Linked DNA regions of Homo sapiens: region 1 is linked to region 2. Evidence: fine-mapped expression QTL. A gene starts in region 2. The other region holds a variant in brackets. All regions are shown on one strand. Distances are from middle to middle.

Evidence for each region.
Region 1: its variant is fine-mapped to the expression of RASGRF2 in whole blood (TOPMed, PIP above 0.99).

What each region holds. Positions count from the first base shown.
Region 1 is chr5:81,201,990-81,214,735 of GRCh38, forward strand. It overlaps RASGRF2 (Ras protein specific guanine nucleotide releasing factor 2), which reads left to right. Exons shown (of 27, transcript NM_006909.3): 20 at 4,856-4,916; 21 at 5,257-5,360; 22 at 6,365-6,449; 23 at 10,377-10,574. It overlaps LOC124901017 (a long non-coding RNA gene), which reads right to left and starts at 8,949. Exons shown (of 2, transcript XR_007058842.1): 1 at 8,070-8,949; 2 at 4,222-7,421. RefSeq lists an enhancer at 10,549-10,608. The variant G/A (reference allele first, on the strand shown) is at 5,781.
Region 2 is chr5:80,955,242-80,967,987 of GRCh38, forward strand. It overlaps RASGRF2 (Ras protein specific guanine nucleotide releasing factor 2), which reads left to right and starts at 5,122. Exons shown (of 27, transcript NM_006909.3): 1 at 5,122-5,785. The coding sequence starts at 5,498. RASGRF2-AS1 (RASGRF2 antisense RNA 1) reads right to left here and starts at 5,666. Exons shown (of 4, transcript NR_105015.1): 1 at 5,540-5,666. RefSeq lists enhancers at 1,614-2,134, 5,225-5,946.

The DNA of each region.
Region 1 (12,746 bases), 250 kb after region 2:
GGTATGACTCCACACTTCTATGTGATAAAGGCTTCAACTTTGGGTGTACTGCTAGAGATTGTGTCCATAGTTGTTGCACCCAGTATCCAAGTGGGTAACAAGCTTTCTTATAGCTTCTTGAACTGGTGGGTGGATTTTTTTTTTGTCCACTCTATGTGGAAAGGGCAGCCATTGCTAGCTTTGTGCAGACATTTCAGTTGCAGCTTCCCAGCTCACTCATAAGTACGTCCTCTGTCCGTGCTTGGGGATGGGAAGCCCAGCATCTCTCTGCCAGGGTCTGGTACTTCTTTACCACTCTCATTTCTAGTTCCCTCTTCATTTACAACCTCTAGAAATGACCCTTCCTTTCCTCGAAGCTTGGCTGCATTGTCTCCTTGTTACATGTTATCCAGAATGTTTGTGTCATCCACAGGCAGTCTATTTTAGCTCAGTCCATGTTTTTGCAAGTCCTTCCCTGATGCAGCAACACCAGATGTTGGTTTGTGATGTGTTAGCAACTGGCCTGTAAGTCTTTCTTAGCCCCCATTAGCTGAAGATCCCATAGCCAGACCGTTCTTTGGTGTAGGGTCTCTTACAGGTAGAATTGTATCTCCCTACCCCCTAAAAGATATATTGAAGTCCTAGCCTCCCATACCTCAAAATGGACCTCATTTGGAAATAAGGCCATTGCCAGTGTAATCAGTTAAGATGAGGTACTGGAGTAGGGTGGAGGTATTGGAGTAGGGTGGACCCCAATCCACTTTGATTGGTGTCCTTATAAGAAGTCAACCATGGAAGACAGACACAGACAATGCCATCTGAAGATGGAGGCAGAGACTGAGTTATGCAGCTGCAAGCCAAAGAAAGCCAAAGATCGCTGGCAAACCACCAGCAGCTAAAAAGGCAAGGGAGGGTTCCCCTCCAGGATTCAGAGGCAGCATAGCCCTGCTGACTGTTCGATTACAGACCTCTGTCTGGAAGGTGAGACAATACATTTCTGTTGTTTTAAGCCACCCAGTTTGTGGGATTTTATTAAGGCAGCCCTAGGAAACAGTTAGGGGCCTTCTTCACTTTTTCCATTCTATGAAAACATCTAAGTAAGCCCAGGGATTCCACTACTGTGTCTGTTTTCAGATTTTAAAATTGTAAGTACATATTGAGGTGAAGCCTGATTTCAGTGCATGAGGGACTCTGAGTGATTACTGTTTCTTTTCTCTTCATAACTAGTTTGTTATGCTCTTTGCATTTAAAACACTAATATTTAAAAACTAGATTCAGGAAGTTTGTGCCCCTAGGGATATTTGACTAAATAGCTATCAGGGAAGTGAGGGTGTTCAGGCTGGGAAAAACTGTCAGGATCAACCAGTATGAGGGCCTTTTGTTGCCAATCCCCTCAAGACGCCCATGCCAGACTTTACCCATCAATTCTGAGAGCTTTCTCTCTGCACCAAGAGGTGACCTCAGACGTCAGTCAGTTGGAGTTGGTTCTTAAGATGAATCCTGTTTGCCATCCCAGGTCTTGATTATTCATCAGGCTTCAGATGTGCCAATTCTTTCTGCTGAATAATGACCTGAGAGTTAGCAGTGTAAGATTGATAGGGAACAGAAATTTTAGTAGGCAGTAGAGCTTGAAACTACAACACTGAGCAGAGTCTGATTCTACCTTTTGCAGGATGTCACAAGGCTAAATCTTGGCTCGGCCATTTATGGATGTCAAGTTCTCAACCGGTCCAAACCTGTTTCCTCATTTATAAAGTGGGACTCATAATAGCTACTTCATTAGGTTGTTGTGAAGAGTACATGATGTGAAATGTGTAAGGAGGTTAACACAATGCCTGAAAAGTCATTAGCACTCGTAGTAAAGTGAGTATTATTACTGTTAGAAGCACTGACAGTAGTTCCTGGAAAAAGTAGTTTCTGCCGTTAAGGCCATATGGCCCAAGTGAAACCAGGCTGGATCTTAGTCAACTCAACTTTCTTTAGGCTTCGTCACCTTTTCCACACAAAGACAGTGTGGACCAATCCCAGGACAGACACTGGTTGCTTGTGGCTCTGTTTTTGGACTACCCTAATTGAAAGAGGAATTTTCTATTCATACAGCTTGGATAATCCCATTTCCTTTTATTTGGTGTGTCATTATAAATGCACAATTATTAAACTGGTGATACTGCTGATAGACGTGGTAGTGATGGTGGTGGGGAACCCAGGATCCTGGAATGTTCATCAATGCCCAAGCATCGCCAGAAGACTAGAAGCAAATCTTTTCTCTATTGGAACTGAACCAGAAGTGCAGAGGCCTCCACATCTGAAGGGAAAGAATTCTGAACCATGCCCTCTAGAAAACACAGGCTATGACTGTGAGAGATAAAAAACATATCATATGGTGGTTAAGTGCAGCCCTGACATTTAGAGATTTATATGCATTCCTGACATCTAAGAGATATGAACATAAAACATGTTTTCATGCATAGGTTACATTAATGCAATAAAGCAAATGCTCTTTTGAATGAAGCCTCCCTGACTCACAGTCTCACAGGGGTCACAATTAAGTGTATGATGAATACACTTAATTGCCATATATAGTTTGTTGCCCTGTTTGTAAATAAAAACCTGTACTCAAAACTTATATTTCTAAAATACCATCTCTCCTCCTCCAAAGTTGTCTAACTAGCTGTCTTCAAAATCTATTCAGTGTAGAGTTTTTCTAGATACCCAACATGCCACAAAATAAAAAGAAATAGTGATTAACTTCTTGGATGTTCAACTGTGATGGGCTCAGGTCATAGAAAAGTCATCCTCAAACCCCACATAGCATCAACAGGAAGGCATAAAATGTTAGGTAACTTAATGGCACCAGAGTGCCTCTTGGAAAATGAGGGTAAGATCATTGAGAAGAGGAACATTTGATGGGAGCTAACTAACTTTTTGACTTTTTCTTTCCAAGGGAAAGATATTACCCAGCTTCATAAAAAGATCTTTCCCACTGGTACACATAATTATGGAGCCACAGATCTCTCTCCAGGAACCTAGAATGGTGGAAAAGATGATGTGCACTTTCGGAAAAGTCACTTTTATCTCCCATGTGTAACCCTTACATGTAATTTAATAGGCTTTGGAGAAAGAGTTAGCTTTAACTTATTTTTTCCTCATCTTAATCTGCCCTTTAAGATAAAATGACTATTTCTTTCTACTCACAAATAATATGGCTAAGTGCCGATAAGAGGGCTGCTACTAGTATAATCTAGAAGGCTCCTGCTCCCCCTTCAGACAGCCGAGGGAAGGGAGTTGTGTTTATTGACTGTGTGCTGTGTGTGGGACCCTTGAAGAGGTGCCTTCCCTGAGCCTGCTTAAGAGAAGCGCAGAGTAAAGGAAGGGCCCACAACCCTGAGCAACTTAGTCAGTGTCTTTGAGCTTTTGTTTCCTTATCTGTAAAACGGAGATCACAATGCCTGCATTATCTGCTGTCCTGTATAACAATCCCTTGGAAGGGATCTGTTAGGATACAGGAGATAGTGCATGTCAAATGTTTAGCACATGCCTGGCATAGAGCGGGCATACAGGAAGCCATCTCTGTTGATATTATGTTTTTGAGGGTTGTGGCTGTTGTTTTAATCAACTCAGAACACAACAGAACATCACATCATCATTACTTCTTTTAAAAGTAGCTTCCTCTTACTCTAGTTTCTCTTCATATCGCATAAATCTTTCGCCTTTTACTAAAAGTAGCTTCCTCCAGCAGAGTACATGGTTTGGGACCGTTTAACTATTTTATTTTGTTTTATTTTATTTATTTATTTTTGAGACTTGAGTCTTGCTCTGTCGCCCAGGCTGGAGTGCAGTGGCGCTATCTCGGCTCACTGCAAGCTCTGCCTCCTTGGTTCACGCCATTCTCCTGCCTCAGCCTCCCGAGTAGCTGGGACTACAAGTGCCCGCCACCTGCCCAGCTAATTTTTTGTATTTTTAGTAGAGGCAGGGTTTCACCGTGTTAGCCAGGATGGTCTCGATCTCCTGACCTCATGATCTGCCCTCCTACTATTTTAATGCTTTGAGTATGTGCTTGTGCCTTCCTTTTGGAAAACATAAAATGCCTGGCTCCAATGGCAAATTATGTAATTGGATGCCTACTGGACTCCAGTTTTCCTGGACTCTGAACGTCTGTTGCACAAAAATACCCTCTACTCTGAAACCAGTATTTAAGGTATTAACTTGTGTTTATTCATTCACTCATTCATTCATTCATCATTTATTTTTTTAAAAGATATTTATTGAGAGCTGAATAACATGTATGAGATTCAGGGCCAAAAGTGTCTGAGGAAAGTCCATCTGGAATGCAAGGGGGAAGAAGCTATCTGCTGGCTCCTGCCTGGCATTGTTCAGAGTCTTGCCACATAGGAACCCCCTGTGCTTCTGGTCTACGTAAGCTTGAGAAAGGGGTGGCCCTGCGTCTCCTGCCTCTGTGAGGGCAGGGAAAGCCCACGGTAGGGGATAGAGGTGTGGGGAGGAGGGCACTCAGGCCTAGGAGTCCAACTGGCTGATAGCATTAGAGGATGCTCCATTTTACATTATGGATGGTAACTCAGAGCTCACCCAGCTCACCCTCAGACTCACTGTGACGGTGGTTGTTTCATTTACAACCTTGTATGTAACAGGTTGCCTTTTTGTTCTAAATCAGCTGTCCTGATGATTCTCTCATGCCTTGAGCATGTTTTCTGTTTGGGGATTGCTCATCTCCAGCTCAGCAGTTGGTTGTGCTGCATGGCCTTGTAGACCCAAATCCTCAGACCTCCCATCCAGGGAAAACCAAACTGCATTTGTAGTTTTGTTCCTAGGTTGTCTATTTTTTCTTTCATGGAGGATAATTTGATATCTTTTTCAGGGCCCTTTCACAAGATGACCAAGATGACATCCACCTAAAATTAGAGGATATAATTCAAATGGTAAGTCTGACCACATTTTTATCTAGCACAACTATGTGCAAACTACCTCTCCAAGGCGAGCAATATGCTTGTAACCGATCAAGGAGTGTTGTAGTATTAGGCCCTCTGTCCTATCTGTGAAGCTCTGTGAGATGAACCACATTTGGTGTGGGGTCTAGCAGTTGGTCTAAGATATTCATGTTGGCTTTGATACTTTTAGCTTTCTGCCATTTTTTTCATAGTTAGAATTTAGTGGTGAACTTCATGCTTCCACACATGCAGCTGTCTGCCTCACTGACCTGCAATGAGATGGCAGGCGCCCTCTCCTGGGTGTTTCATTTCCCTCCCTCATCTCTTGCAGACTGACTGCATGAAGGCCGAATGCTTTGAGTCCTTGTCGGCCATGGAGCTGGCAGAACAGATCACCCTCCTGGACCATGTCATTTTCAGAAGCATTCCCTACGAGTGAGTGCCACCCCCCACAGCAGCAGGGCTCGGCTGCTCTAGCTGTCTTAGAAGTTGACATTATTCCTAAGGCAGGTTGTGTGTATGTCTGTCCCCTCAGTTCCTGTGTGAGTATCTACCAGTTGTTTCCATCCATGGAACTGGCACGCCTCTGTGTCCAGCACTCTGCAGGATGGGAGCAGGACCAACAACAGCAAGGGACAAAGAACCCTGCCCAGGGACTTAGTCAACCTGAGTATCAGAGTAATTTCGAGTGTTTTTAATGACTATACAAAATAATTCCTGTATGCTGCATCTCACTTGTCCCTTGTTTCTTGCTGTGTCTGGTGACCTGCTCAGGAATGAAGTGAATGATCAGGAATGCTGCCCTGAAGACAGCCCATCTGACCAGGTGGAGCTTCTGCCCCGCTGAACTGCCTG[G/A]TCAGGGCAACATGCGGTACAAGCCTAAAAGGAGCGCTTTTCAGCCCTGACCACCTGCGCCCTCCTGAGCGCTGGGGAGAACAAAACGCAATCCCTGCCTTTGAAATCTGCATCCTCCAGGAGAATGGCAGGCAGCGCAGAGTGGAGGGAGAAAATTCTGCTTCTGACTAACATTTTTGGTAGTGATGAAATTTTTGGACCCTCTGCTAAGGCTTAATGTTTTTAAAAGCTAATCCTGGGAAAATAGTCTTGATTTCTAAGGTAGTACTTAACCTCTTTATTTCCCTTGTGTTGGTTCTTGTTTTCCAACTTCAGAGAAGGCTTTATAGGATCCTAATAGGGACACAGTTCCAAACATTTATAAGAGAAAGCTGGAAGCTGAAGAATCTTCCTTTTTGGCATTGAGAGGTAAACTGCAACAGCCGAGGTAAAATTCACTTGTGAGGCTGGCAGCAGCAGGTGTCAGGAACCATTCTAGGCCATGTCAAATGGAATTTTTCTAATATTCGTGACAACTGTCCAGGATCATAGCCACCATATTTTTAAAAACTTAATTGGTTTTGTGTTTTGTTTTGAACTTCCAGGGAGTTTCTTGGGCAGGGGTGGATGAAGCTGGATAAAAACGAAAGAACTCCTTACATTATGAAAACCAGCCAACACTTCAATGACGTGAGTAACCGTAACAGTAAAACCGTGGGCGTGTCACAAGAAGATGGATATTGGGGTCTAAAGACTCCTCTAAAACAAAGCAACTCTGTCACCCACTTTTTTTTTTTTTTTTTTTTTTTTTTTTTTTTTTTGAGACAGAGTCTCGCTCTGTCGCCCAGGCTGGAGTGCAATGGCGTGATCTCAGCTCACTGCAACCTCCACCTCCCTGGTTCAAGCAATTCCCCTGCCTCAGCCTCCCGAGTAGCTGGGATTACAGGTGCATGCCATCATGCCTGGCTAATATTTTTGTATTTTTAGTAAAGGGGTTTCACCATGTCGGCCAGACTGGTCTCGAACTCCTGACCTCAGGCAATCTGCCTGCCTCAGCCTCCCAAAGTGTTGGGATTACAGGCGTGAGCCACCGCACCTGGCCTGCCACCCACTTTTAAACAGAATTGATGGGATATTGACGACAAGCTTAAATCTCTAAGAGCTCACAGTAATGTAATAATGTCCAATTAACTTCCTGACATAAAAGGTTCACCTTTGATGGTACCCAGTGCTCAATAATGTACAGGTTGCTGATCCTATTTTTATCATGATTATCACTACTTCCTGTTCATATATTGACTAACAGAGTGAGCAGTACATGTGTCACTGGCCCCTGGTGGTGTTGGTCACGGTAAGGCTGGGTTGGTGCAAGTCCTCATCATTACTGAACGTTCAGCCTGAATTACATTCCAGGGTTGGAAGGGGCCTCTTGGAGCATAATCACATTGTTGCTATAGTTCTGTGCAGCAGTGGCCAGCTGTCAGTCCATCTTACAGCTCTGCTTTTCCCCAGCGGTAAGATTGGGAGATGCTTTTATACCTCCCCGCTCTTCCTTAGTGCTGTTCTCATAGTCTTAGTCCTGTGGTAGAACAAGTAACAGGTGTGGGAGTGTCTTCTGGCCTATCCAGGCAACGGGAAGCCTCCCCTTCCAGTTTCACTAAACTATAGTAAAAGGAATAACGATTTTAAAAACAACAACAACAAACTACCAGGAACCCCATAGGTAAATTAATAAGTGATCTAGAATCAAAATGCAAAAATGACAGTTTAGATTCCCAAGACAGTGTTTCATGCAGGCTTTCCCCAAAGCACGTGGATGCTGTGTGAATGCTACCACACAATGAGCTTCAGTGCCGCTGCTGCCTAAAGGACAAGGGCATGGCCCATCTAGTGCCTGCCCTGAGAAACAGATTCCCTGCTGTGGGAAGCAAACCTCTGTTACCTGTGGTGAACCAACACAGGGGATATAATGGACACTCAAAGAGAGGTTCGATCCCAGGCTCCAGACCCACATGTCTCCTCTGCTGGGACGACTGCTACATTGCATTCTTGACAATTACAGATGGAACCTTTCATCTGCACCCCAGAGCCGCCAAGCCTGCTTCTTCATTGTCCTCTCTGTTCTCAGTCTTGGGTAGTGGCCTCACCATACACTCACTCACCCAAGCACAGGATCTAGACGTCATCTTCTCCCTTACCAGCTCACCCTTACCACTGCCCAACATATTTGCAAACTCTAAATCTACATATATCTCAGGCTCTTCCCCACCCTGCCTTCCCCGCTGCCACCACCTTGATGTGGCCTTTTACCTTGTCTCTCCAGGAGCTCCTGACTCATCTCTCCCCTGCAACCTCACTGCCCTCCAATCCATCTGTTAGGTTCAGAGTCAGGTTCCAGCCCATGCTGAGGTCTGAGGGGAGTGGGTGGATGCCTGAAAGAACACGTAGGGGGCCGTAGGTAGGTGAAAGATGATTTTGTTCAGCGGGCGCTCTCATCAGCAGCTGTCTCATTAGCAGCTCTTTCATCAGCAGCTCTCTTACGCTGTCTCTTCTGTCTCAGCTGCTTGAGCCAGTCGCTCCCGCGCACAGCTGTGTGGCCAGCTCTCACTTGCCTTCAGGGTCAGCAGCTTAACTCTTTCTCTGGGCATGAGCTCCTGTACAGTGTCAACAGGGCAATTATACCTTTTACAGACAATAGTGGCTTAGAGCCAAGTGATGGCCTTCCGTGTTATGGCTACATGGCTGTGATCACAAGTGGAGTTATACACCTGTGCTCTAAACTCACTGAGTCCCTCTGGCCCGGATGTCCACCTTGGCCTATCCTAGACCAAAGCACAGCCATGTACCTTAAACCATCCTGCATGCAGTGGCACAGGAATGACTTCTCTGAAAGGTCAATCTAATTATCTACCTCCCTTTGACAAAAATCTGTCAGTGGCTTCCCCTTACCTTAGGGATATGGTCCCAACCTGTCATACAAGAGCACAGCCCATCTGTCACCCTTGCCTCTCCCAGTCCTTGTGCCCCTCAGATGGCTGCCAGGTCCTCCATTACACCATCCCTCCCACCTCTGTCCCCTTGCTCTCATACTTAGATCCTTTAAGACTCAATGCAAGGCTGGAGACTGTAGCTCACACCTGTAATCCCAGCACTTTGGGAGGCCGAGCTGGGAGGATTGCTTTAGCCCAGGAGTTCAAGACCAGCCTGGGCAACATAGTGAGACCCTGTCTTTATAAATACAAAAAATTAGCCAGGCATGGTAGTGCACACCTGTGGTCCCAGCTACTTGGGAGGCTGAGGTGAGAGGATCGCTTGAGCCCTGGACATCGAGGCTCCGGTGAGCTGTAATCATGCCACTGTATTCCACCTGGGGCAATAGAGCAAGATCCTGTCTCCAGAAAAAAAAAAAAAAAAGACTCAGTGCAGGCGTGACCTCTTCCTAGAAGCCTCCTCTGTACTAGACCAGATGCCCCATGCTGCCTGTGTATTCCCAAACCCCACCGTGAATAGACTCAACTTTGTGTTTCGCTGCATGGCATTTACCTGTTTATGTATCTGCGACCCTCCCCTTCCCACCTACCTAGGCTCAGATTGCCTTAAGGTCAGGGATGGATTTATTTGTCTTTCTGTTCCCAGCACCTAAAAGAATCTATTCTATCCCATTTCCTCAATAGTTATTGGCAAGAACTTCTTCATCGAAATTACTGATTAACAAAACCACTTCTTCCCAGGACAAACTGGATTCCAAATAATTCCTCTCCTCACGCTAAGGATGCGCAGGCACTCAGTGAACAGCACTGCAGTAGGTGCTTTAGCGAATTTCCACAGTGATGGTGTTGAGGCACTATGAGATCTTAAGTGTCTTCAGAATCATCAAAGAATGGGTGAATCCATCAGACTTGGTGTATGGATATAAGATTACACGCCCTATATTCCCTTTGTTAATACGGTAATCTCATTTCACTTTTTTTTTCCTCTCCATATTACAAGAGCTGAGCTTCTTAAACTGGCTTTAAGTAATAAAATTACGGTACTTAGCCTCAAAACTATAGGTCCTTTTAACTGCTGGTGAAGAATAAGATGAAGAAAATGTTCTTTTCCTTGCAGCCAAGTGATTCTGGTTTGAGAGTTAATCAGCTCAGAATTTGATCTAACTGGGGGCAAGTGTTTTTTTCTTTCTCTGTGATAACTGTGGCTTCTCAGAGTGAGTAATCACACACTGTTGGGGGCCAAGGAGTAAAGGGAAAGGCCCCAGGGAGTGACATCCATGATCTACAGACATTGCCTTTCCGCAGGCGTTAGGTTATTCTGTCCCATTTCCTCAGTAATTATTAGAAATGACACCATCAAAATTGCTGAGGAACAAAATCATCTCTTCCCTCAACAAGCGGGAATCCAGATAACCCCTGTGTTCACTCAAAGGACAAACAGATGCTCATTAGTTTATTCTTATAGACTTTAGTCTCTTTAGAAAGTTGGTATCTAAATGTAGAATATGATCTTCAAGCTACTCAACACCCTGCCTTCCTGACAGGTCTGCAGATAATTTACATATTTTGCCTAAATGCACTGCTTGGGGCTCTTAGACTGCCTTTCGGGGCTTTTTGATTGTCTCAGATGAGTAACCTGGTGGCCTCCCAGATAATGAACTATGCTGATGTCAGCTCCCGTGCCAACGCCATCGAGAAATGGGTGGCAGTGGCGGACATCTGCCGATGCCTGCACAACTACAACGGCGTGCTGGAGATCACCTCGGCCTTAAACAGAAGTGCCATCTACAGGCTGAAGAAAACCTGGGCCAAGGTCTCTAAGCAGGTGAGCCTCAGCGTGTGACACAGCCTGCTGCTAAGAGGAGGAGAGGCTGGGAGATGGGAGCCAAGTTAAATATTACTAATTAGGAAATCATTAACTGAAATGAGCCGCTCAGTTGCCAAAGAAAGGTGCCAACATGGGTAATTACAGGGCTCTTACCACTTAATTGATTTCATTCATGTGCATTTCTAAAACATTCATTAAAGCATTTTGGGGGACAGCCACAAACAATGTGGTTGTCAGTCAAGAGTTGTTTCCTGAATTATTTCGGAGGGTACATTGATTTTGAGCAAGCACACTTATGTCCAGTGGGTCCATTCTTTCTCTCCCAGAGTGAGGGTGCAAACTCTGTGGGGCCAAAAGCCAGGGACAAAAGGCCTCATTTTTCACCTTTCTCTTGCTCATTCCTGTAGTAGATGTAAAGTTTTGGCATAATAATTTAGATGTGCAGAAATACAATTTTCATTTTCTTTCATTAATCTCAGCTTGCCTATGCCTGTCATTTTCACTCAGATAATTTCAAGATTCAAACTAAATCATGATTCTTCCCCTGCCCTTTCTCCTGGCCTTCTCCCTGGGTGTTGGGTGCCTTGGAGGGCATCTCTGGGCTTTTGGGCACCTGTCTGCTCCTCTGGCCTCCTGTGGTCATTCTTTGCTGATGATTCATTGGGTACAGGCTGCTGTGAATTGCCTGTACCTGGTGTCACCTGGCCTGCTTGCCCTGCCTGGGAACAATGCATGGTGATTGCACCCAGGGAGCCTGGCTGACCTCGTCTCAGGGGCGAGGGGGAAAGGGCCTCAAAGGGCCTCAGGGGAAGTTTCCAGGCTCTCACGTCCCATTGGTGCCAGAGAATAGAAGGGTCTACATCAGGCCCTCTCTGCCTAACCCTCCCCTGCCTTGCTGTGAACACCCAGAGTTGGTGAGGGGAATCTACAGAGTGCCACCTCCAGGGTCCCAGACCGGAAGATCTAGGTATGTTCTGCTGACATGGCCTAAAAACTGTCTCATTTTATCACCCTACTCTGAGGATTTAAGCCCCTCTCAGAGACACTCATTATTTCTTTTCCATCTTCATTTTGCCCTCCAAGCTTTTCCCTTTAGCATAGGAGAACAATTTAATTTCTCCATGTGGCAGGAAACCAAGCCTAAGTCCTATCTTTTATCTTACCTTTCTCAGAGTAAAAATGCAGTGCTCTGAGAATCCCAAATTTGGCCCCTTAGAACTCAAAAGTCCTCTTTTCTGTCAACAATGGACCTGGTAAATAAAAGCCACAGTTTTTAAAAATACTGGTTAAAAACAAAAAAACAAAAAAACAAACTTTTGTTTTGAGATGATTATAGCTTCACATGCAGTTGTAAGAAATAACGCGGGGATTCCCTGCACCTTACACCCAGTTTCCCCCAACAGCAGCATCTTGCACTACTACAGACAGTATCACAACTAGGAAATGAACATTGGTGCAATCCACCAGTCTTATCCAGATTTCACCAGCTTTCTAGGGATCACCAGCTATCACCAAGGGATCCCTAAATCTTAAAGTTTCCAGGCCCACTCCGTAGTTAAGTGATATTCTTGTCTTTGATAGGATGCTGGTTTAGGAATAACCGAACTGATCATGAAATAGAGATGATGAGACTAATATTGAAATGATTGTTTCAAAATTTGAATATACCATCTGTAGAGGCTCTAAATAAAATATTAGCATTTCAGTCACATTATAGGTCACTCACAGTGGCCTTAGCATGGGCTAGTGGACTGTCCCCCAGAGAGGCTGTCTCTAGAGCCAAGCGCCTTACTCCAGTCATGGTAGGTAGGGCCTGGTTGCAGATATACCCTGCTTCAGACACCTTTGATGACAACATCCGCTGTACAGCTGTCCCTTCTCTGCATCTGAGATCAGCCGGGGAGTTGTTCAGCAGGCCTGATAATCTGCACTCTGGAACCCACAGACTGGTCTGTTGCTGTAGGACAGGTTGTACTTTTGAAACTTTTTTGAGCAAGGTTAGCCCTGGACCAAGCATGCCATCTCTAAGAGCCCTCAGACACCAGAACTGGGAAGACAGCCCTTTGCCTCTCAGGAAGCTGTGCAGCTCCTCTCCAGGTGAGACAAAGTAGTTTGAGGACCCTCAACCTGGGCATTCCAAGTTCTTCTCCAGGCAGGACCTGGATCCTC
Region 2 (12,746 bases):
GAGAGGCACACAGCACAAGCTGTTGTGTTCAGTTGCACAGGTTGGTCACTGCACAGGGCTCCCTGCACAGAGCTGTAGCCATCCAGGGGGAGGGGCACCTTTTAGTCACATGAAGGTGTCATGTCATCCACTCATCAGGATCATGTTCTCAAGGCTGTGTGCACCTCAAGGCTCTCTCTAATTCATCCTCCCAGAGGGTGTGCCTTTTTCTAATTTGCATAAAAGAGTAGAGGCTAGCAATAGCTGTGGTCTAGCTCCTAGACACATTGTATTTAGAATAGTGACCTTAAATCAAGAAGATGCTAACTTTTCTTCACTGTTTAGACTGTAGAGATGTAGAGCTCATTTATCTTCGGTGTTTGAAGGACAAGCTTTAGGTATCTCGAACATTAAGTTAGTTGAAATATCATAAGGACACCAGATAAATGGTTTTATTAGCTCTAAGTAGTTCATTCTAGTATTTCGTAAATAAGGAATTCTTTTTGGTCAAAATAATACTGGAAACAAGGAAGGAATAATCCTTTTGGGTTTTACCTACTTGGGGAAGAACCTGGCTTTACTAATTAAGTATCAAGAGATGATACAGAATCACATATGTGCCAGAACTGGTAGCACTCTATCCTGTAGAAACAGTCTGGGATTCTTGGTGAGTCTGCATTATTAAATATATTATTCTCCACATCTACAAGCCATCAAAATGACAATTCCCCAAGTGATCTTCTGTCAGGCTAAGAAAAGGATCTTGGCAATACTGTGGCTTTGTTACAGGAAAGCGGTCCCAATCCAGACCCCAAGAAAGGATTCTTGGATCTCTCACAAGAAAGAATTCAGGGCGAGTCCGAAGTGCAAAGTGAAAGCAAGTTTAAGAAAATAAAGGAATAAAAGAATGGCTACTCCATAGACGGAGCAGTCCCGAGGGCTGCTAGTTGCCCATTTTTATGGTTATTTTTTGATGACACGCTAAACAAGGGGTGGATTATTTATGCCTCCCCTTTTTAGACCACACTGGGTAACTTCCTGACATTGCCATGGCATTTGTAAACTGTCATGGTGCTGGTGGGAGCGTAGCAGTGAGGACGACCAAAGTCACTCTCGTTGCCATTTTGGTTTTGGTGGCTCCTTTACTGCAAGCTGTTTTACCAGCAAGGTCTTTGTGACCTGTATTTTGTGCTGACCTCCTATCTCATCCCGTGACTTAGAATGCCTTAACCGTCTGGGAATGCAGCCCAGTAGGTTTCAGCCTCATTTTACCCGGCTCCTATTTAAGATGGAGTTGCTTTGGTTCAAATGCCTCTGACAGCTTTGCTTGACATAATCTTCCTCCAAGAACCCAGTGCGGATGCATTTCTGAATTATAGAAACCACAGGGAAAAGTCCTTGCAGAAACTCATGCAGCCCATGTACATTTTACTAACAAAACAGAGTTTAGGAGAAAGAAAAAAAAAATTAAAACCTACCTTGTGCATCTGAATACTAAGGCATGAGTTAGGGATTTTGAAAAGCTGTAGGTTAGGTTGTGCACTCCCCACTCCCCTAAACTTCAAAGCTTTAGACAATTCAGATAAAATTTCCCCTCCCACCTTTCCTTCCTCCCTCCTTCCGTCCTTTCTTTCCTCTTTCCCTCCTTCCCTCCCTTCCTTCCTTTTCTCATCAAATTATCTGAATAATGTCTCCCTCTCTATTTAGTAGAGTTTCCAGGTATGACAGCTCATTGCTATTTTTCCCCTCTTAACTTATCTAGAAAAGGGGAAAGAGGCCACTTGCACTGTGATCATATGCTTTGTTGCCCATAAAAAATTTTTTTAAACTGGCCCGCTCAAGAAAGAATCCACGCAATGCAAGAAGGAAAAACAATGAATTCAGAGAAGCTTGTTCCCATCCACTTGGAACGCAGTCTCTTTTTGGCAATCTATTTGATCAGCTGGGGGAAAGCATTCTTATTTACATAAACTCCTGATCCTTTGTGTTTCAGGATGGCACCATTCCAGGGATGTGGTTTCCATATGAATGGAGACTAAAGGCCCCCAGGTGCCCATCAGACACCTAATAGAGATAGCTTCTCTAGGCTGTCCAGGAATGTCTGGTTGTTTTCATCTCTTACAATCTTGCAGAATGATCTAATATTTGCAAATGCTTATGCCCTCTTTAACAATTCAATGACCAAATAAGAAATTAATTTAGAAAATAATTGTCTGAAAAACTTGTATGCCTACTGCATATAAACTCTCCTACTGGGTGCTACAGGGATTACAGAGATAGCTCGGCACTTGAGAAACAGACAGGTGAGAAGAAGCACCTAAACATTAATCTTCTTCCTGGCTGGGTGGTGTCGTACTTACAATCCCAGGACTTTGGGAGGCCAAGGCAGGAGGGTTACTTGAGACCAGGAGTTTGAGACCAGCCTGGGTAACATGGTGAGACCTCTGTCTCTACAAAAAGTAAACAAAACCTAACCAGGTGTGGTAGTGCACACCCATAGTCTTAGCTACGCTGGAGGCTGAGGCAGGAGGATTGCTGGAGCCCAGGAGTTTGAGGCTGCAGTGAGCTATGACTTCAGCCTGGGCAACAGAGGAAGAACCTCTCTCTAAAGAAAAAAAGAAAGAAAGAGAGAGAGAAAGAGACAGAGAGAGAGAGAGAGAGAGAGAGAGAGAGAGAGAGGGAGGGAGGAAGGGAAAGAAAAGAAGAAAGAAAGAAATTCTCTTCCTCTTACACTGAGCACACCAGGAACACAGGCAATGCTTTTTCTCTATATGCTCTACATCACCTAAATATAGTGTTGAGGACATAAACTAGTGATCAATAAATGGTTCTTGCAGTGAATTTCCATAATCAAAACCCACGGTAATCACCAGCCAAATTTTGCAGGAAACAAGCACTCCTTTCTCTCATTGTCCAGGGGCAGAGCAGATGGGGTGGCATATAAGGGCCACATAACCTTCCGTGGTAGGAAGTGATGTCAGACAAGAGGTTGTGAATATTTCATGTGGTTCAAATGAAAAGCACATTTAAGGAGACAGAGATGGTAACTGAGACATTGCTTATTGAAGAAGAGAATCTTTCACATCTGAAAAAACTCAAGTGCGTTAGAAGGTTTGACTACTCATGGCAAAATAGTTTTTGTGCTGATTTCACACTCTTACTGGTTTCTACTAAAAAAATGGAGCTTATCAACCACACAGGTGTCTACTCACTTACGGTTCTCACAGCTGGGATTGGACCACAGAGAAAGAAATAAAAGGCCTCCTGAGGCAATCACCAGCTCCTCTGCATCTAGAATCTGGCTCCAAAATGTTGCCTGCATTTACTTACTGTCTCTGTACTTGTGTCTTCTCTGAAGAACAATGCAAACTTCCAGCTGGGTTAAACCCAATTTAGCACAGCACTGTCCTTTAGATATTTTTAAAAACGTAAAGAGAAATGACCACTGTTCTCACGCTGTAATTTCAAAATGGCAATTTCCCTACTATATACTTGTTAAAAGTGAAAATTTTTTAAAAAGGTAAAAGGAAAAAAAAACCCCACTCAGCTGCTCAGTGAGGCAGAGTTAAAATATTCTGCAGAAACAGCACTTATGAAACAGGCAGAACCCCTGGGGCTACCAATTCATGAACACACAACTGGCAGTACAAGACAGGTGTATTGTCGTAGACTCATCACCCAGAAAAGCATTATTATTTACTTTTAACAATAAACATTTTATGATGGCACTCCGTTTTAGTGATAAATGACTGGGGAAAATAAAAAATGTGTATAGCAGAATCAAATATAGGCCCTCCCCGGGGGTTTCACTGGCTTTCTCTCACAGCTGCTGGCTACATTATTTCTTTTCCACTTACATTTTTACAGCATGGGGTTGGGGCGGGGGGGTGGCTCTTGGTTTTCTGGTTGTACCTGTCAGATTTGTTAATCAAATGAATCCAGTCCTACAAACGATGAGCCTGTGACAGCTGGCCTTTGGGGTTGGATTCTGCCCTGGGCAGCAAAGTGTCCCTTATTTGGGTATTTTTTTCCAGGTTGAAAACTCGGCACTTAAAATTTAGCATCTTACCACTGTGAAATAACAGGCATTCCGAAAGAACTTCGGCATCTGATGCCTTTCCGGGAACACTTGGGCCACTCTCCTTAACCTTTACCGGCAGTTTTAAATACTACAATGCAGGTACAAGCAGAAAAGCCAAGGATGCGGGCTATGCAAAGCCACTCTGTGACTCTACCTACTGCCATGGGAACGTACTTATGGATGTGGCATGTGAGTGTGTGTGTATGTGTGAGTGGGTTTGTGAAAGTGTGTGGATTCGTGCGAATACGTGTGTGAGTGCTTTGTGTGTATTTTTGGATGAATTTGTGAATGTACATGTGTGTTCATCTGTGTGTGTGTTTGATTATCTGCTTATGAGTCTGTATGATTGTGAACGTGTGAGTATATGTGTGCTGTTTGTGTGACTGTATGAGTGTAATGTGTGTATGAATGTATGTTTGAATGTGGGTTTGAGTGAATGTGTGGGTTGTGTGTGAATGTGTGTGTAAGTGAGCATATCACTGCGTGCATGTGTGTAGCTCCTTAAGTGTGTATCTGAATGTGGGTTTTATTTTTGTGCGCGGGAACGCACATTGTGGGTGTATTTGTCTATATGCATTTGTGCGTTGTGACTGTGTGTTGAGTGTGAGCGTTGTGAGAATGTGTATTTGTGTGTCATGAGTGTGTGCGCGTGTGTTTTTGTGCATATGTGCGCGCATTGTGTTTGTGTGCATTTGTGAGTGTATTTTTGTGCGTCTGAGTGTGTGCATTGTGGATCTGGGTGAATGTACTGGTCTGCGTGTGTGTGGGTGTGCGTGTGTGTGTGCGCGCGTTGTGCGCGAGTGTGCGAGCGCGTGTGAGCGGGTGTGTGGTGCGGCCGGGCGCCTCCACCTCCCTGATCCGCCCCATCCCGGCGGGCGCCCGAGCAGAGGCAGCGGCCCGGGCCGGGGCGGGCGAGGGAGGGACGCGAGCCGGGGCAAGCGGGCTGCGCCACCGCCGGCGCCGCGCCGACTTTGCCCTTTAAATCGGTCTCCAAGCCGATTACAGCTGAGCTCCCACGTGACGTTTTACCTTCTGTCTCCCGGAGCGCGTTGCCCGAGGACAGTCCTTCCCCGGCTGCCGCCCCAGCCCGCCGCGGGGGCTCGGCTCCCGCAACTTTGGGCGAAGCGGCGGCCGGCTCGGGCGCCCTCGCGGGGCCGCGCTCCACGCGGGCGTTGGGGGCTTGGGGGGCTCCGGGGGCTCGGCCGGGAGGGTGGTGGTTAGGGCGGAGAGCGTGCCTCGGCCCCAGCCCGCGCCCCTGCCACCGCGCGCCGCGGCCTCCCGAAAGCGGGCGGGGTGCCCTGCGCGCGGCGTGGGGAAAGGGGGCGCCCTTCGCCGGCCGGGACCTGAGCGGTCGCGCCCTCGAGGGAGCCAGCTGGGCCATGGCCGCGAGGCAGGGGTGAGACCGGCGGCCACCCGTGAGCCCTCCGCACCCGCACCATGCAGAAGAGCGTGCGCTACAACGAGGGGCACGCCCTGTACCTGGCCTTTCTGGCGCGCAAGGAGGGCACCAAGCGCGGCTTCCTGAGTAAGAAGACGGCCGAGGCGAGCCGCTGGCACGAGAAGTGGTTCGCCCTCTACCAGAATGTGCTCTTCTACTTCGAGGGCGAGCAGAGCTGCCGCCCGGCGGGCATGTACCTCCTGGAGGGCTGCAGCTGCGAACGAACGCCCGCGCCACCCAGGGCCGGCGCCGGGCAGGGAGGCGTCCGAGACGCGCTGGACAAGCAGGTACCGCGCGCCTTCTCTCCGCGGTCTCCCAGCCTTGATCGCCGCACTCCCTTGCCGTCCTAATCCGGGGATCAGGGGTCGGGGGTCGTGAAAGAGTGCGGGGACTATGCTCCGAAATCCCCCCGCGTCACCAGTGGCGGGACATCTCCACGCTCCTTCCGATCTTCATCCAGGGATTCTCCCATCTCCATACCCCTCCACCCCACTGCCAAGTGATCAGTCAGAATAGTGGCCCGACTTGCTTTCATTACCCTGGTAGAGGTCGAGTCGTTTCAGCTTCTCTGCCAACCATCTATTGCTTCTCTAGACCTGGCTCGCCAGATTTTTGTCTGGTGACATGTATTGACACCTGTTGGGTGTAGATTGGCAAGACGGAACTAACTTATTTGGAAAAGTTTGATTTCTGCCATACCCGGCTGGCGCGTGTAGATTTCTTTGCCTGCAGATGTTTGACCACTGGTTGGGCTGGGAACAAGCGGGGCTCCCAAGCCGGACAGACACTTTCTGTTGGTCATTTTCAATCAGTCTTTGTGATTTCGGTCAGTTGGCCTTGCTAACATTTGACCTGCTGGGTGTAATTATGAAGGTAAATGTGTATTCATATTCCTCAGGATTAATATTTGGTAGCCACATTCTTGCTATGTTTAAAAATGTGGGCATTTTTAAAGAACGCTTCTGTACTTTTAAATGAATGCTTTGAAAATGAATGCGACCTTTTAATTCTGGGTCATAATTTTATTAGTTTTGCTGTGTGCTCATGGTCGCGGGGTGGGGGAGAAAAACCCTTTAAGTCTTAGTGATCCCAGCCCCTCATTCCTGCAAACACAAAGTTTGTATGTTTCCAATCACCGTTTGGTTATTAAAGTTAAAGCAGACTAATTTTATGCCCCTAATGTTCTCATTTAGCTTCTCAATCCCCACCTTGATATGAAAAAGGCTGATTGTTTTTGCTGTTGCGTAAAAATATTCGCAGCTGAATTTTCCATGTGAGTTCAGATCAGACAGCATCTACCGCACACCACAGAGGCTGTGGGAGGTGCTAGCAATGGAGTGATCCGTAAGATGCCTACCTAACCCTTTGGGGCTCATAAAACAATGTGTAAAATTAAGAGGAGTTAAAACTAGACCGACCGGAAGTTTGAGTTGTTTTCACTATAAATCATTAACAGACTTAAGTGATTAAACTTGTTATAACACTTATAAATCTGAAAGTTTAAATATGCTCTTTAGTTTCTGAGGGCTTGTTCAGAGTCATTTGAAAAACTGATTTCCAACTTTATAGATATAGATACTAGAAATATAAACATAAATTTCAAGTCATGCATTTTAGAATTTAAATTGGGAGAAGAGTTTTGAGGAAACATTTTTTTTCAGGAATATATATAAGTAACATTCTATTGGTGGGATTTTTTTTAAGGTATGTGTTCCAAGGCCCCGCAGGAACCAAAATGAATAGGTTTCTAAATGTTATTATGTCTAAAGTAGAATAGGGTATTTTAAATTACTCAGGATATATATCATTTACTTAATCTCAAATTATTTGTTTTCTTCATATTTATATTAATATAAGATAACCACTTTTGATTTTTTTTTTTTCAGTTAGGGGTGGGGAGTTGTTACCTGTTACAATTCATATGGCTCTCTGACTTGCTAATGTTATATGGAAACCAACATTTTTCTACTTGGAAAATATCTGGACTGTAATCTTCAAGACTGTTTTCTTTCTTGCACTTTAATAAGGAAACATAACTTCCAAATAGTTTGACTTTCATGCCACTTTCTAATGGTTGTCCTAAATAGGCCATCTAATGAAAAAATTGTTTTCCCTTTTTATGACCATGCAAATGATGAGTATTTCTCAGTCATTTTATTCATCTTCAAGAGGTTAGAAATTAGAATCTTTGGTGTTTGTAGATAAATCTGAGATGTAGAGAAGCAAGCATTCCAGAATGGATTAGGAGTTGGGCTGGGAAACCTTCCACATTTTGTCTTGCATTAGATGTGCTGCTGTGAGTTGGGTTAGCTTAGCCCACTGATGCTTTTCTCTGGCACTGCCAACTGGGTGTGTTTGAATAATTAAGAAGAAACTGTGAAAATAAGAAACAAGGAGAAACATTCTACCTTAAATCTACAGTTTATCCAGTTGGTTACCTCTCAGCTAATTTATGTTGCTGAGGTGCTTAGATCATCCAGACACTGAGACACGAAGGATCTGTGGAGGATGTGAGGAGATGAGCACATCCCAAGGTTTGCTTCTTTCTCCTTATATGCTTCTGGAGCTTTCCATATCAATATCTCCCTCAACACTATCAACACAGTTGAAGGTTAGGGCTTGAAACAGGACTTAGTGAGGCAGAGTCATTTTTCTTCACCAAGTTTCCGTGTTATTTCTTTAAGCACATCTCTTAATCTTTTCTCTTTTTTTCTGTTAATGAAATCTCTGTTTCCTAATATGTAAAAATTAAGAATTTGGCTAAGTTGGTTTCCAATTACCTTTCAATAATGGCATCTTCTATTTCTAAGGTTATGACAGACAGGGTGAGCTTTTTGCAGTGTGGAGAATGTGAAAGACCATTTCACAAGATTCAGAGATTACCAGTGTTTGTAATAAATACTGCATCTGAAAAGCCGAGGACAAGCAGGTGATTGAAGTGGACATTCTGATAAATTAGTTAGGTCAGCAGATGTGCAAACCTATAGTAACATCATTGCCTGAGGCAGAGACATTCTTATTACTCACATTGGAGGGCGACATATTTATTGTAATCCCCTTGACAGTTACAATAGTTGATGTAATTATTGCTATAAACTGCCTCTAAGCATTCTTGGGAGCTTAAAGTCCACATATCCTTCAATGATTTTTATGCTTATTAGTTGTGTTTTTAGGTAAGTTACAAGAAGAAAACACCCATTGGTTTGCTTCCTGTAAATAACAATTCAAAATAAGTTGGTTGACAACAACAAAAAAATCCGTTTTTTTTTTTTTTTTACACTTGGACTTAAATTGTTTCCAGTTAAGCAGAAAAAAGAAAGTCACTTTCCAAATATGCTTAGATTGTAGGAATATTTGCATTGCTCTATTTTTTTCATAGTGTTCTCAGATTTCACTTTGATGAGTCTTTGGAGGATTGCAAGGCTCTCTTATCAGCCTTCCATAGTGACTACTTCTTTGGGATAGCAATGGTGATATAATCAAAATGAGATCAGTTAAAAACAATTTTAAGTGGTTTATTTTCTCCAAAAGTGTTGTTCCTTTTCTTAAAAAGGTGTCCGATGGCACTTCTTTCTAGTTAAGCTCCATTTGTGGAAAATGAAAACCTCCCGTTTTGTTCCAGGTGAAGGAGAAAGGGAAGTTGTATTTAGCAAGTACCTTCTACATGGTAGGCTCTGTGCTCTTGGTGGCTGTTATCCTCTCTTACCTCATCTAATTTGAACTTCAGCTTTTGGAGATGATGAGTATTAACATCATCGTTATTATTACCTATTGCTAACACTGAAACTCAAAGACTTCTGGGGAGATGATCAAAGTCCAGTTGAAGATATAAAGACTAAATTATGTTGAAGAGTTCCTTACTAAGACTGTTTTTAAATCCACTGAGCAAATCTAGATGGATGGGGGCTTGGGGTATAGGATGTGAATCACTGTTTTGTTTATTCTTATTTCCTTTTCAAAACTATTTAAATGGCAGTTGTAATTCTTGAGAAATACGATTGCAGACCATTACATGTTCAAAGAAAAACGGGATTTATTTTTAAACAAGCAGTTTTACATGACATTACTTCAGGAATTCATTTACTTCAGGAATGGGGTACCTTTAAAAATATTTGCATTTAGGGTGAAAGTACACATCCCAGTTAGTCTGCTCTGTTTCAGTGGCAGTATCTGTCTTGCCTACTAGCAGGAGAAGACACATAGCAAAAAAGCCACCTTGATTCTTATTTTTCTGGTGGTGGTAAATGTTCTCTTCAGCCTGATTTCACTTGTTTTGGGGGGTAAAATATCTCTTTCGCTCTGGAGGTTTAAAGAAGTAGACATTTGCATTTGTGCTGAATTAAACATGTTGGTTTAATTTTAAAGGGATTAAAGGCTATGTGATTTCCTGTCACTTCATTACTAGTCATTTTAGCCTTCCTAAATTGACCACAAGCAGAGGATTTTAATCATCGAATGAATTAGGCAGAGCTGCGTGCGAACTCTGAAATATTTGTGGGAGATGGAGAGTGTGGATGGTGGATTTTCATACTACTTCACGTTGTCTAATTATAACCAACTCAACTTTTGTTTACTGAACACAAAGGGAAAATGGAATAATGATATTTGCTAAATCTTATACAATGTTAAAAAATATAATTTAGGGAACAAAATAATTTATTACTTAAACTTTGTAATTATCCTTCTCTTTAAAGTTAAATGAAAAAAAAATCTCATGGATTAGCAAAATTGAGTTATTTTAATTTTGGCTACACTAAGCCTTACTATTTAGATTGTTGTGTAAGAATTCAACACAGAAAAGTCCATCCCTGATGTGACAGATGTATTAATACATAAAAATGCATTATTGTTGTGAACAACTATTTTTCTGTGGGTTTCATTAAGTGACAACTAAGCGCATTGTCGAGGGGTAGAAAATACTTGTAGTGTTATAACAATTTTTCCCTTCTTTTGACAATTAAAAAATAGAGAAATTTTTCTCCCACTGGATGATGACAAGACCTAAAGCATGTGTGATAACCAAATGTTTCTGGTTTTAGCAAGCAAATGTCAGTGGTTCATTAAAACAATTGCTGATATTGCTGTCTGTTTAATGCAGATTATATTTTTAAATGGATTTTTTTCTGCAGTTTTCAATACTACTTAAATATGCATGCCACAGTCAGTATAATTTTAATTTTTTGGAATGAAATTACTTAGTCTTTATGATTATTTTGTAATGAAATAAGTCAGATTGACCAACCATATGGATTTGCTCAAGTCTTAAATTCTACTTTTCACAGGTTTAAAGTGGCTTTCTATTTTTATACCTATTTATTTGTTCTACAAGAAAGGGATATATGTTTGTGTGTGTGTGTGTGTGTGTGTGTATGTGTGTGTGTGGTGTTTATTCAGTTTGTTACCCTTCTACTATTTTCTACCGTTGAATATTAAACCTTTGTTAGGCGGTTATATATTGGAGTTTGCAGATTTTGATTTGTACATTAACATTTCAAGACCTGAGTTATAAATCCCATCTATCTATAATTTGGGGAGCTTTATTTTTCAGGACTAAGGATATGGAATGATTCTGTTAAATTACTCACAATATAAATTCCTCTCTGAAATTAGTTTACCTTAAACAAAGACTGTAAATAGTAAAATTTTATTGATATTTAAATGAAACTAGAAATGATATTTGTTAAATATCAACATAGCACTGTGATAAATGTTTGATTATTTTATAACATTTGGCCTTTATTCTAAAATCTAACCATTATTCTAAAATTATCCATTACATTTTTATTGGTGCAACTTTTAAATTTTAGCTGATTGAGAAGTTATAAATACATGAATTTGGTTCCGCCAAAGGGAATATGTTAGCATTTTTGCCCAAGGAGTTAAAAATGTAATTGTGTATATATTTAGAAAAAAACAGTAGCAGGTTTGTTGTTGTTGTTGTTGTTGCAGAAAATATTGGCATCAGTAGGTGGAACAGAGATGCAAAAAGCACATGGACTCACAGTTTTATTTTTTTACTGGCACTTGAAAAACTAATGATTTAATGAAAAATAAGGATTCAAATCATTTTTCCTAAAACTTATTACAGTGACTACAAAATGCTTCAAATATACTTTTAGGGAGAAAGCAGGAAAAAAATAACAAGTTTGAGTTGGTCTGTGTTTATTTAACTAATATACTACAGTGTTTCTTTTCTTTGTTAAAAAACTGTAAAGCAAGAAATGAGACAGAAAGTTGGGGAGGCCTATATAAGAATAATTTACAGCTTTAGATTAAATAAGTTAATCAGAATTTTAATTCTCATAAGATCTGAGAAGATAAAGATAAAATGATGTAAAAAAAGCAATCCTTAAAAATAAAATTTGTTGGCCGGGTGTAGTGGCTCACGCCTATAATCCCAGCACTTTGGGAGGTCGAGGCAGGTGGATCACCTGAGGTCAGGAGTTAGAGACCAGCCTGACCAACATGGCGAAACCCTGTCTGTACTAAAAATACAAAATTAGCCAGGCGTGGTGGAGCATGCCTGTAATCCCAGCTACTCAGGAGGCTGAGGCAGGAGAATCACTTGAACCTGGGAGGTGGAGGTTGCAGTTAGTCGAGATCACGCCATTACACTCCAGCCTGGGCAAAATAAATAAATAAACACATAACATCTCTTGGTAAAGAAATAAATAAAAATAAAATAAAATTTATTGATCCTTTAGTGCTTAATTAAAAAAAAATTCAGGTCACAATATCTGTTTTTAGCTCTTATGATACTTACCAGTATGACATTGTGAAGACCTGTGGTGATGGAAACAGCAGGGATATGAGTGGTACTTTTTATTATTTTCAGGGTACTGAAGTGTTTCATTTTGTCATTGTCTGATTTAATTTAGACATGCCTGATTCATTTCCTGGACTGTATTTATAAGCCCATGCCATTTGTGTGACTAATGTAAACAGTGGGGTCAGTTCTTTCAAATAGAGGGACTGTTGAAAAGCTAGGAGGTTTCCTGCATTTAGCAATGTGGAAATAGGGAGGTGATAACTTGGTCTAAGGCTCAGTAGATAACATTATAACTGATCACAAAAGAAGTCATGACGAGATAATGTCAGTGATTCATAGGAATAGGAGGCCACTCATATTAATATGAATTTGCTTTCTTTTAAGAATGTAAGAATATCAGTTTCTAGGTGAAGTGCTGGTGTTGTGTATGGTTCAGTTCAGGATTTAAACTGCATAGGATTCAGTCTTGGCTCTGCTAC